Regions from separate parts of the Homo sapiens genome. Here regions 2, 3 and 4 are each linked to region 1. Evidence: fine-mapped expression QTL. A gene starts in region 1. Each other region holds a variant in brackets. All regions are shown on one strand. Distances are between the middles of the regions.

Region 1 (2,684 bases):
CAAATAGTGTTCTAGAATTTCTGAACCCAGGCCTTAAGACAACTGGCAGCTTCTGCTTCATTCCTCTTAGAATCCAGCCAGCATGCTGTGAGCAGCTCCAGCACCATGGAGAGGTGACATAGAGGACAACCAAAATGCACCAGCTGACAGCCCCATTGTGATCCCAGTGGCAGCCAGCACCTACTGCTCACCACGTGAGTTCACCATTGCACCATCTGCAATGGTGTCTGGAGAGCTGATGTCCCAGTCCAGCTGAACCCCTAGATGACTGCAGTCCCAGAAGACAACATGTTGAGCAGGAAAACCACCCAACTGAGCCCAGCCAACCCATGAAATCATGACAAGTAACACAATAACTGGTCTAAGCCAGTAAGTCATCGGTGGGTTTTTATGCAAGTGTAGATAGCTGAAAAACTGGAGGACGGGTGGGTTCCCAGGTGGTGGTCACAGCTACAGCTCAGAGGAAAAGGTCTGGCTGGAGAGGCTATAGATTTAGGAGACATTGGCTCATAGAAATGTGAAAGCTCTGTTGTGGATGAAATCACCTACATCCCTTTTCACACATGCCCAGCACACCTAGAGCACAGCCAACCCACAGCAAATATCTGCTGAATTAAATTCAACACTCCATATAATGAAGAACACTAAAAAGCCACTGTTTTCTTGAGCTAAGACAGTCCTCATGCCCGGAATTCTAATTTCCCCTTGTTCTAAGCATAGTTTTATGCTCACCCTCTCTGAATCAAGTGTGTACTCCTAGCTGCTGCATTTTATCTTCTTTATCCTCCTAAGACAAGTCCGTTTGAGTGTGGACTTGGAATCTGCAAACATAAGCTTGGGTTCAGGGTGATGATTTTTCTACCTGTGCACCTCTCTTCTGAGCCTCGGCTTCCTCAACTATATATAAAGGTGCGAATACCTGCTGATTAGGTAATAAAGGTGAACTCTTGGGCAACCCTTAAGGGGATGCAGCTGTATTGTCCATCTTCAGCAGGACACAGGTACAGCCTCAACCCAAACATCCCATCTGTTCCCTCTACCTGTGGCCTGTTCCTCTTCCCTGTAAGAACCATCTCCCAGGTTGGGGAGCTGGGAAATCTCCAGCTTTGTGTTTGAAAAAGCTCCCGGAAGACCCAATTTTACAGCCAGCTTGGCCAGCTGCTGGGGTAGAAGGGTGAGCAAGGAGCTAGTAGTCTGGGAAAGTGACTCCTAGAGTCGCAGATCTGGTTGGAGCCCAGGTTTGTCCTCTAACACAGTGTGACCTCCGCAAGCTCCAGCACTTCTTGGGCCCAGTTGTCCCCTGTTGTACACAAAGCATTAAGAATGGCCTGAAACAACCCCAAGGCTCCTTCCACCTGGAAGGCTCCGGCTCCTGTTGGGGTGGGGGTCCGGTCACGTGTTGGCGGGGAGGGGGTTGCCGGTTGACGTGGCTGCGGGTCCAGCCTCCTCTGACGTCCTCGCAGCCGTCCTCCCTCCCTCCGTCCCCGCCCCTCTGGCGGCGGGAGAGCTGCTGGCTCGCCCGGATCCCGGGAGCTGCCTGGAGGCGGGCCCGGCCCGGGGAAGGTGAGCGGCTGCGGGACCCAGCCCCTCGCCGGGAGCGGGCACCATGGTGCTGTCGGTGCCTGTGATCGCGCTGGGCGCCACGCTGGGCACAGCCACCAGCATCCTCGCGTTGTGCGGGGTCACCTGCCTGTGTCGGCACATGCACCCCAAGAAGGGGCTGCTGCCGCGGGACCAGGACCCCGACCTGGAGAAGGCGAAGCCCAGCTTGCTCGGGTCTGCACAACAGGTGAGCGGGGGCGGCGCGCAGGCCCTTCCCGGGCAAGGCGGGGTTGCCGGGCAGCTGCAGAGGGGGAACTGGGGTGGGAGGCGGTCGTGGATCTTTGCGCGACAAAGCTTGGCGGGGAGGGGACAGCAGACGCGTTGGAGGACAGGTCAAGGAGTCAAAAAGGTAGGGGGATGGGGGAGGCTAGGGGATGGGGGAGACGAGACCTGAAGGAGAATTAGGGAGCGGCGAGCTTGTGGGGACTGAGAGAAGAATGGGGGCCAGCAGCGAGACCTAAAGGGAGGGGACAGGAAAGGGGACCTGGATAAGAATTAGGGCTGGGAAGGGTAAGAGGAGAGGGAGGCTGGGAGGGGAATCGCCAGGGTTAGGGAAGACCCTGAGAGGTACCAGAGAATGAGGAGTTTGCAGAATTGGGAAGAAGACTGGGGTCTGTGAGAGGGAGATGGGTGGTGGTTGTGGAGCCAGGGTAGGGCAAGTCCTGCCAGAGCTGAGAAGAGGTAATGCCTGCAAAGCCAGAGGGGAGGTGGCCGCGGTCCCGCAGGAGCTGGGAAGCTAGCTAGCGGGGTCTAGAGAGCTGAATCCGGGAGGAACCTGAAGGACTCTTCCCCACCCCCTAGCAGCTCTGAGCTCCAGCCAGTCAGAGGGGGTTGGTATGGCCTCCCCCAAGATGTCTCTGCAGACGTCCCTGGAGACAGGAGGGCTTTTATCCCATGCATTTGCTCATGGCCAGAGCCCCTTCGTGCAGGAAATAGCCCGTGCTCCCATTGTAAAGAGCAGCAGAAGGGGTCTGGGGAAGCAGTTTGGAAGGATTTCCCTGCATAGGCTGTGACCTCCAGGATGCATTTCCAAAGTACAGAATGCAGAATGTTCTCTGGAGAACCAGGAGGCAAAGAGTCCT
Region 2 (2,684 bases), 22 kb after region 1:
TCATGAGGGTAAAGCCCTCATGATGGGATTAGTGCCCTTGAAGAAGACATGTGAGAGAGATGCTGTCTGCTCTCAACCATGTGAGGATGCAACAAAATGGCTCTCTGCAAACCGGGAAGTGGGCTTTCCCCAGATACCAGATTCACCAGCTCATTGATCTTGGACTTCCAGCCTCTAGAACTGTGAGAAATGAACATTTGTTGTCGAAGCTACCCAGTTTACGGTAAGTTTTATAGCTATCCAAACTGAGATAGGGGTTGATGTTGTGGCATGCTTAGCAGCATTCCTGGCCTCCAGGAACAGCTCCCAACCCCCATGGTGACTGTGGTCAATAGCAGCTCCACTGCCTCCAGTTGTGGCAACCAAAAATGTCTCCAGACACTGCAAATGTCGCCTGAGCGGCCAAATTGTCCCTGGCTGAGATCCAGCACTGTCAGTGGAATCATGCAGTATGTATGCGTAGACAGCTGTCTTCTTTTCCTCAGCATGTTTTGGTAATTCTTCTCTATTGTTGAGTGTACCTGAAACTCATTCCTTTTGTTGGTCGAGGAATATTCCATTGTAAGAATATGCCCCAATGGACTTCTCCATTGTCCTGTTGGTGGAAGGCTGGGCTGCTTTCAGCGTTTGGCTAGGATGAGTCACGTTGCTCTCAGTAGCCATGTCTAAGTCTTCTTGCAGATTCATGTTTTCCTTTCTCTTGGATAAATACGTGGGAGTGGATAAAAACTGTTGAGTCATAGGGTAGATTTATGTTTAACTTTTAAGAAACTTCCAGTTTTCCAACGTGGCTTGCCATTTTCCCTTCCACCGGCACTAGTGACCATCCCAAATGTCTCACATCCTTGTCCACACTAGTGTTGTCAGTCTTTTTGATTTTAGCCATTTTAGTGGGTGTGTAGTGGTGTCTACATTTTTTTTAACATCTTCCTGGGTAATTCTCACAAACAGCTGTATTAGTTATCTATTGCTGTGTAACAAACTACCCCAAAACACAATGGCTTAAAACAACAATGCTTATTATCTCAGTTTCTGTGGGGTCAGAAATCCAGTCATGGCTTACCTAGGTCCTTTGGCTCAGAATCTCTGCCAGGCTGTGGTCAAGGTGTCCTCTGGGGCTGTGCTCATCTCAGGGTTTGACTGGGGCAACCTCTACCTCCAAGCTT[G/C]CTCTTGTGGTTGTTGGCAGGATTCAGTTCTTCCTGCGGTGCCCTCGGGTCTTTGCACATGGGGCTCTCTATAGGAAAGCTTTCAACATTGCAGTGTGTTTTATCAGAGGGAGTGGGTGAGAGAGAGCAAGGAAAATGGAATGTCATTTTTTTGGTAATCTAATCTTAGAAGCATTGTCTTCTCACATTTGCATAATCTGTTCATTCGAAGCAAGTCACTAGGTCCAGCCCATACTCAAGGACAGGGGATTATACAAGGGCGTGGACACCAAGGGACGGGACACTGAGAGGTCTCATCATAGAGGCACCTACCATGGTGGCTCTGATGTGAGAATGCTTGATCTAGACCAGAGCTTCCCCAACCATCTGTGAGAGAGGATCCAGTTTAGCTTAGTTTAGTTTTGTTGTAATGCTCACACTCAATGTCTATATTTATCACAAATGAGTAAAAAAGTAACAACAACAAAAAGTAGTTCATCAACTGGTCCCTACACACAAACCCCACTTTTTGTAGCACCTGACTAGACCCTAGGGTCACATAAATATTGCCGACATTTGTCGAGGGTTGGCTGGGCTAGCCTCTGTCCTAAGAGCTCTGCGTGAGTTATCTTATCTAAGCCTCAATCCAACCCCAGGAGATAGATGCTATTGTTAGCATCCCCATTTTACAGATGAAGAAACTGGGCACAGAGAAGTTAATTAATCAGACCCAAGGTCACACAGCAAGTAATTGACAGAGCCCAGACTCCAACTAAGCTGTCTTGTTTTAGAGCCTGAATACCTGACCAGCAGGATATATTTCATTATATACACGTTAGTGTGCATAATCGCCAGTATTAGAGGCCAGAGCGACAGACTCTTGCAGGTCCCTTTGCCCTGGCCTCACTACCCCCTTGGCGGGGGCTTAGCTATACTATAGACCCCAGCAGCAGCAGTGGCCCATGGTTGGCATCATCTGAATACTGGATGCTCAACTGGATGCTTCTTCTCTGCCCTCCCCTTTTTTAAAGTTCAAGTTTAAGGAGCAAAGATGACCTCTTTTTCAGCTGGATCTGCTTCCCCCACCTGCAACCTCCTGGGTGGTGCAGTGCTACTGTAAGAGGGATGTCCCAGCATGAAACCCCAAATTAATAAACAGCCCTAAGGTGAAAAATTAATCATGTCACAAAAGGGGTCACCTAGCATCTTTGGTAAGGTTAAACGTTTGTTTACAGATCATTAACTACATAATTAAGTTTTGGTTTTCCAACATAAGCCCCATAAGGGAAGGACAGCATCTGTCCTGTTTACTCCCATATTCTGAACACTTAGCATAGGACCTGGCCTGTAGTGGGGCTCAGTAAATATTTGTTCATTAATGAAGGTTCAGGTTCCACCCCCCGTGCCATCTGTCTCTGCCTGGATTATTACTGGAGGCAGAGCCGGAGGCGTCTGTGCTACCCTTCATGAGGAAGCAGGAGCCAGGGAATGGTGGGCAGGGCCTGGGAGGAGAGAGGACAAGCACAGGGGCATTACTGA
Region 3 (2,684 bases), 27 kb after region 1:
ACAGCAGTGATACATTTTACATTCCCACCAGCAGTGCACAGAATTCCGATTTCTTCACATCCTCACCAATGTTTGTTATTTTCTGTTTTGTTGATAGTAGCCATCCTAATGGGTGTGAGGTGGTATCTCACTGTAGTTTTAATGGCATTTCTCTGGTGATTAGTGATGATGAGCATCTTTTCATGTGCTTATTGGCCATTTGCATATCTTCTTTGGAGAAGTGTCTATTTAAATCCTTTGCTCATTTTGAATCAGGTTGTTTGGGTTTTTGTTGCTGAGTTCCCCTATGGAGCTTTAACTCTCTGCACATCTGGGTTGCTTCTGAGTGGACAGAGTGTCCCTGGTGTCTCATAACTCAGCAGGCATGGAGAAGTCCCAGGGCAGAAGGCAAGAGGGGCATGGCTTGAGCCCAGTGTGAGGACCTGTGTTGCTGTGCCCATGGACAGCTGGTTGGACACAGTGGGGGGAGCAAGCAGCCAAAGGTCCCAGGGACAGGTGAGGCGGAGAATCTAAGGAGGCATTTGAGGGGTCTGATGCACATCTGAGGGTGTGATTCTTCTATCCAGATGTGCATGCAATGCCAAGAACAGCTGTGCACCCATCCTCTAATTGTTGAATGCCTGTCTCCACTGGAAATCTTCCCTCATTCATCCTGCAGATATACTTCCCAGGCTCTATTCCTGGGCTTCAAGGGACACGTAGACAGAGAATATCTGATTCTAAGTCCTGTCCCTCCTGCACCCATGGTGGAAGGCTGGAGCAAGGTCTCTCTCTAGGGCCCTGCTACCCTGAGCACCTCCTTCCCCCAGACATTCTTGTTCTTCACCTAGAACCCTCTCCCAGGCTCCCTCTCTCAACCCCTGAACCTATTTTCTGTTTCTCTGGCACTGAAGTTTCAGCTATTTAAGTGCAAATATAGATGCATTTGAAAGATGTGATGGAACCAGGTTTGAAATGCAATAAATAAGATTGCACAAGAGAAGGAGATAGGTAATCAGCTGCTGCTTTTGCTCCTTGAAAAGACTCATGTAGCTGTCATCAGACTCTGCTCTTGGCCTGGGCAAAGGCTGTAAGTCATTCCCAGCTAAAGCCAGCCATTTGCCACACAGGATAAAGTGGGATAAGAATAAACAGCAAATGAGGATGCCTTGGGCTGGATGCAGAGATTCAAGAGGGTTTCTTTCTACCCTAGGCCCAGTTTCTCTACACCAGGGTCATGATCTCCTGTGATGCTTGAAAAAGGCAATGCATCAGTTTGGGATGCTCTTGGCTGCAAGGCACAAAAATCCCAATTCAAACTGGCTTAAACAATAAGAACAGTACTACTCACGTAACTTGAAATGCAGAAGCAAGACAGATTGCTGGATTGGTTGGCTGAGCAGCTTAATGACATTGCCATCAAGGACACAGGTTCTTTCTGTCTCTCCACTCTGCTGCCCCAAGGCTGACTCACCTTGCAGTCACAAGGCAGGGCCACCCGCTTCCTGTCCAGGGAGGAGGGGACTTCTACTACTGTGGAATCCAAGTCCCTCC[C/A]TTCCATCTGGGTTGGTTTCCCCAGGACTGGTGCCAACCCCTGGGAATCAGTCACCAAGATAATGCCAAGAAATGGAAGGATCTGACCTCTTCCTGGGAGCTGGGGATGGGATGGAACCTAGACAACCTGGTGTTGTGTAGGGCGGGTAGATGGGAGAGGGAATGGATATTGGTAGACAACCAAGAAATGCCCAATCTTTTGCTCTAGGGGTGCATTTTAAGCTCTGGTAACAAGCTCCTGAGGTTATCAGGGACATACAAATTGAGATCCACTGAGGAGGGAGGAAGGCAGAGCCAGAGTGTCAAGACTTGAGGCAACACAGAGTGAACTTCATTCAGAGCTGAGCCCAGTGATTATTTCCCCCTTGAAAATGCAAATTCATCCAAATTGCATCAAACTGGGAATGAAGCCCAGCCCTTTTCTCAGACGATTGAATTGGGATGAAACCAAATATAAACACAAAAATGTTTCCCAGACCACCCAAACAGTCTTAGTTCTGGTCCCAACCAAGTGACAGTAGAGGGTGACTTTAAGTCAGGTGTGTGCTGAGGCCCAGCAGCCTCTGGGAACGCTTTTGTGCCGATGAATGGGAGGGAGTGGCAGTGGGTGGGCCCCTGAGATGCTGTGATTGCCATTTAGAATCCAGTGGCAAGACCGACAGGGATTTTGCAGGGGGCAAGGGGGTGGTGTTGAGAAGCAGCTGCAGGGCAATGGAAATGACAAGAAATTTGAAGTGAAAACATCTGGAGGCTGGATGATACATACCACTTGTCAGTTGTATGATCGTGAGCTTCCCTGAGCCTCAGTTTCCTCATTGTGAAACAGTAGGATGAAGGTAATACAGAGTTATATGAGATATTGAAGGTGGAGGTGACTTTGTGTAGGGTAGAAAGACGGGGACATTAGTCATCGCTCTGTGTGTCTCCTCCAAGGACCCTGAGCATCTGCTGTCAGAAGCACAGACTTTTACTCCCCCAAGCCCGGTCTTCGCCTCTGCCTTCCAAATCCCCCTCTCTTTCAAGGTCTCAGTCATGCCCTGGCTCCTCCCTGAAGGCCAGCTCGGCCTCCCAGGCACCCCTGATTGTGCCCTGCATGTACTGTGCACTGGCCATCATGTGTTATTTACACATACTGCCTCCCGTCTGCTTCT
Region 4 (2,684 bases), 44 kb after region 1:
CAAGCTCACCATGCAGGGCAGTCACCCGGCAGTTCTCAAACTTTAGCATGTGAAGAGTCACCAGCAGATTCCTGGGCTCGCCTGGAGACATTCCTAGTCGGTATTCCTGGTCGAAGCCCAGGAGCCTTCCTTTTTAACAAGCTGATGTAGAGGGTGGAGCACTGTATGTGGAGAAATTCCTTCTACAATATTCCACACAGGTTTTTGGCCACAGTCCTTGATGGAGTCCCAAAACCATGGTGCAGCCAGTTCCAATGCTGGACACCTCAACCATCAGGGTGAAATCTGGGGCCTCAGCTTTTTAATTTAATTATTTTAATTCTTAATACTTTAATTTGTGCATTTCATAAGCCCCCTGCTCTTGGACTGAATTTTGTGCTTTTTATTGAAGAATTTTATTGTTTTTATCTTAAAATCAGTTTCTATTATCCTTGGGGAGACCATCCCTAACAAAGTACAGGTGGGATCTCCTGTGAGTCATTGGCTGGGTTCTGATTGCTAGATGTCACACCCACCAGCATCACCAAAGTGACTCTGAGATAGACCGGTCCCTTCTCAGCGTTCCAGTCACTTCAGGAGGAATTTAGTTATTGACTTAGTCTATGACATCTGGCTACATGTAGGTAGAGAAGAAAGATAATTTTAAAAAGGAAATCAGGTCTTTTGCAACTGTGCCTCCCTCTGTCTGTTTTCACTTGAATGGGTAAATAACCAGCAGCTAGGTTTTGAATTCCTACCTTGTTATTCTAAACAGATGTCCACATTGTTAATTAAATCTAAATTATGAGCCTTGCTGAGTGGATACGGTACTTACACCTGAACCAGGATTCCTGGGTTCTGTTGTTGACATTGCCCTTCAGCACCTGTTTGGCCAGCTGTGTAAGATAGGACTAATGACTAGGAAGCCTACCCCAATGAATGATATACTAGATGAAATAGTGTTCAAAACCTGTAGGCACTCTCTGGCTAAAAACAAACTCTGAGGCCACCAGCAGATCATCTTTAAGCTAAGTTACTATTTTTCACCTTTTTTTTTAGACGGAGTTTTGCTCTTTGTTGCCCAGGCTGGAGTGCAGTGGCACGATCTCGGCTCACTGCAACCTCCGCCTCCCAAGTTCAAGCGATTCTCCTCTCTCAGCCTCCTGGGTAGCTGGGATTACAGGTGCCCACCAACATGCCTGGCTAATTTTTGTACTTTTAGTAGAGATGGGGTTTCACCATGTTGGCCAGGCTGGTCTTCAACTCCAGATCTCAGGTGATCTACCCTCCTCGGCCTCCCAAAGTACTGGGATTACAGGCCTGAGCCACCGCGCCCGGCCTATTTTTCACTTTAATTTGGCAGCTGAGAATGCCCAGAAAGTGCCAGAAGCATCGTGGCATTTCCAGAACCATGGATTCTGCCTTTGGACCCCTCTCTATTAATATTAAAACTCTGGGCCTTCAGATGTCACCCTAATCCACT[T/G]CCCTAAGACAGAATTTCTGGACAAGATGGGTAAGGGCTTCATTCCTTCAACAAGTCAAGTCATACTTGGCCTCTCCCTGAGAATCTGAGCAGGAGCCTTATAACCTGTGGTCATTATTTTTTCTTTCTGTACAGAAATAGAAAAGCATTAGAAATAACTTCTAACCATCCTCTGAAAAAACAGAAAAAATATCGAATCCCTCTTTCATGAGAAGTCTTTTGGATAATTGGAAACCTTCATCACTGAGGTTGGCCAGCCCCTGCCAAGTGTTGTGTAGGCAAAGCACTTGTTAGTGGCTTCCTATGAAATGTTTTAGAGATCTCTTCACCATACTGGTTTCTTCTCTTTGGTTGGTGTGGGTAAAAGAAAACAAAACATTTCCTATAAGCTGAAAGCTGACCAGCATTCTCTTCTTGGTAACATCTACTACTCCAATCTAGAAAATTTGGATTCTAGACCAAAAATCAGGAAACATGGCTCCTTATAAATCTGTGCAGCTGCCTTATAGTACCATCAAAGGAATTTCAGGTGGGCTGGGCGGGGCCCCGATCCCAGAATTATCAACTCCACCCATCATCATTTGGTCATGAAGCATCCTTTCATTCTTCTTCTTCTTTTTTTTGGGGGGGCGGGGCGGGGGAGGGATCTCAAAGTTTTAGTCTTCCAGAATCCAAATTAAAGGTTGCCCCTGATGGGGGCCAGGTTCCGCCACAGAACATCTTAGATGTCAGCCTTGACCTCACTTAGCAGGGATTACAGAAATGAGATACATTTTGAAGGAGAGTTGTCTGTTATGTTCACTGTATTCTAAGTGCCTGGGATAAAGCTGTCTCATGGGTGCTCCATATATATTCATATATATTTGTTGAGTGAATTAATGAATTAAGAGTGGCTGGCAGAGTAGGCAGAAAAAGACACTGCAAATGGCATAAAAATTAAAGTCCTAGCTGAGTTCTCAATGGTAAAGGCATCAGATGTCTTAGCAGTCAAGCTAGAAATTCATGACAATGAGTATTACTATTTGCCTAATGGCAACTCATTGCTCTCCATGTAAATGTAATCAACAGATGAAGAGAATATAATTGCTCTGCTTTTCCACTAAAACTCCATCTTAGTGAATTTTAAATTATCCAGAGATGTCAAACTGCCAAATAAAAATATTTCAGTAGTCTTTGCATCAGCTTACCTTGTACCAGAAACATTTCCAATTTACTATCAAAT

Alleles and levels. Alleles are on the strand shown, and positions count from the first base shown. SD is a standard deviation of normalised expression in the study named. Not every link is listed here.
For the expression in skin of the gene that starts at base 1,473 in region 1, allele C in region 3 goes with a higher level than allele A (large effect, 1.0 SD a copy in TwinsUK).
With allele G in place of T in region 4, the expression in iPS cells of the gene that starts at base 1,473 in region 1 is lower (moderate effect, 0.55 SD a copy in PhLiPS).

The links. PIP is the estimated chance that this variant, and not a neighbour inherited with it, causes the effect. A credible set is the group of variants that fine-mapping cannot tell apart.
Region 2: its variant is the best candidate, but not a certain one, in a credible set for the expression of SYT13 in nasal epithelium (TOPMed, PIP 0.74).
Region 3: its variant is the best candidate, but not a certain one, in a credible set for the expression of SYT13 in skin (TwinsUK, PIP 0.77).
Region 4: its variant is the best candidate, but not a certain one, in a credible set for the expression of SYT13 in iPS cells (PhLiPS, PIP 0.81).

What each region holds. Positions count from the first base shown.
Region 1 is chr11:45,285,130-45,287,813 of GRCh38, reverse strand. SYT13 (synaptotagmin 13) reads left to right here and starts at 1,473. Exons shown (of 6, transcript NM_020826.3): 1 at 1,473-1,789. The coding sequence starts at 1,607. RefSeq lists an enhancer at 1,292-2,078.
Region 2 is chr11:45,263,017-45,265,700 of GRCh38, reverse strand. All of the region lies in intron 1 of SYT13 (synaptotagmin 13), which reads left to right. Among named protein-coding and RNA genes, the nearest start is that of SYT13, 22 kb to the left of the region's middle. The variant G/C (reference allele first, on the strand shown) is at 1,167.
Region 3 is chr11:45,258,608-45,261,291 of GRCh38, reverse strand. The region is part of intron 1 of SYT13 (synaptotagmin 13); the gene reads left to right. Among named protein-coding and RNA genes, the nearest start is that of SYT13, 26 kb to the left of the region's middle. The variant C/A (reference allele first, on the strand shown) is at 1,534.
Region 4 is chr11:45,240,922-45,243,605 of GRCh38, reverse strand. SYT13 (synaptotagmin 13) reads left to right here. Exons shown (of 6, transcript NM_020826.3): 6 at 1-2,684. Among named protein-coding and RNA genes, the nearest start is that of SYT13, 44 kb to the left of the region's middle. The variant T/G (reference allele first, on the strand shown) is at 1,463.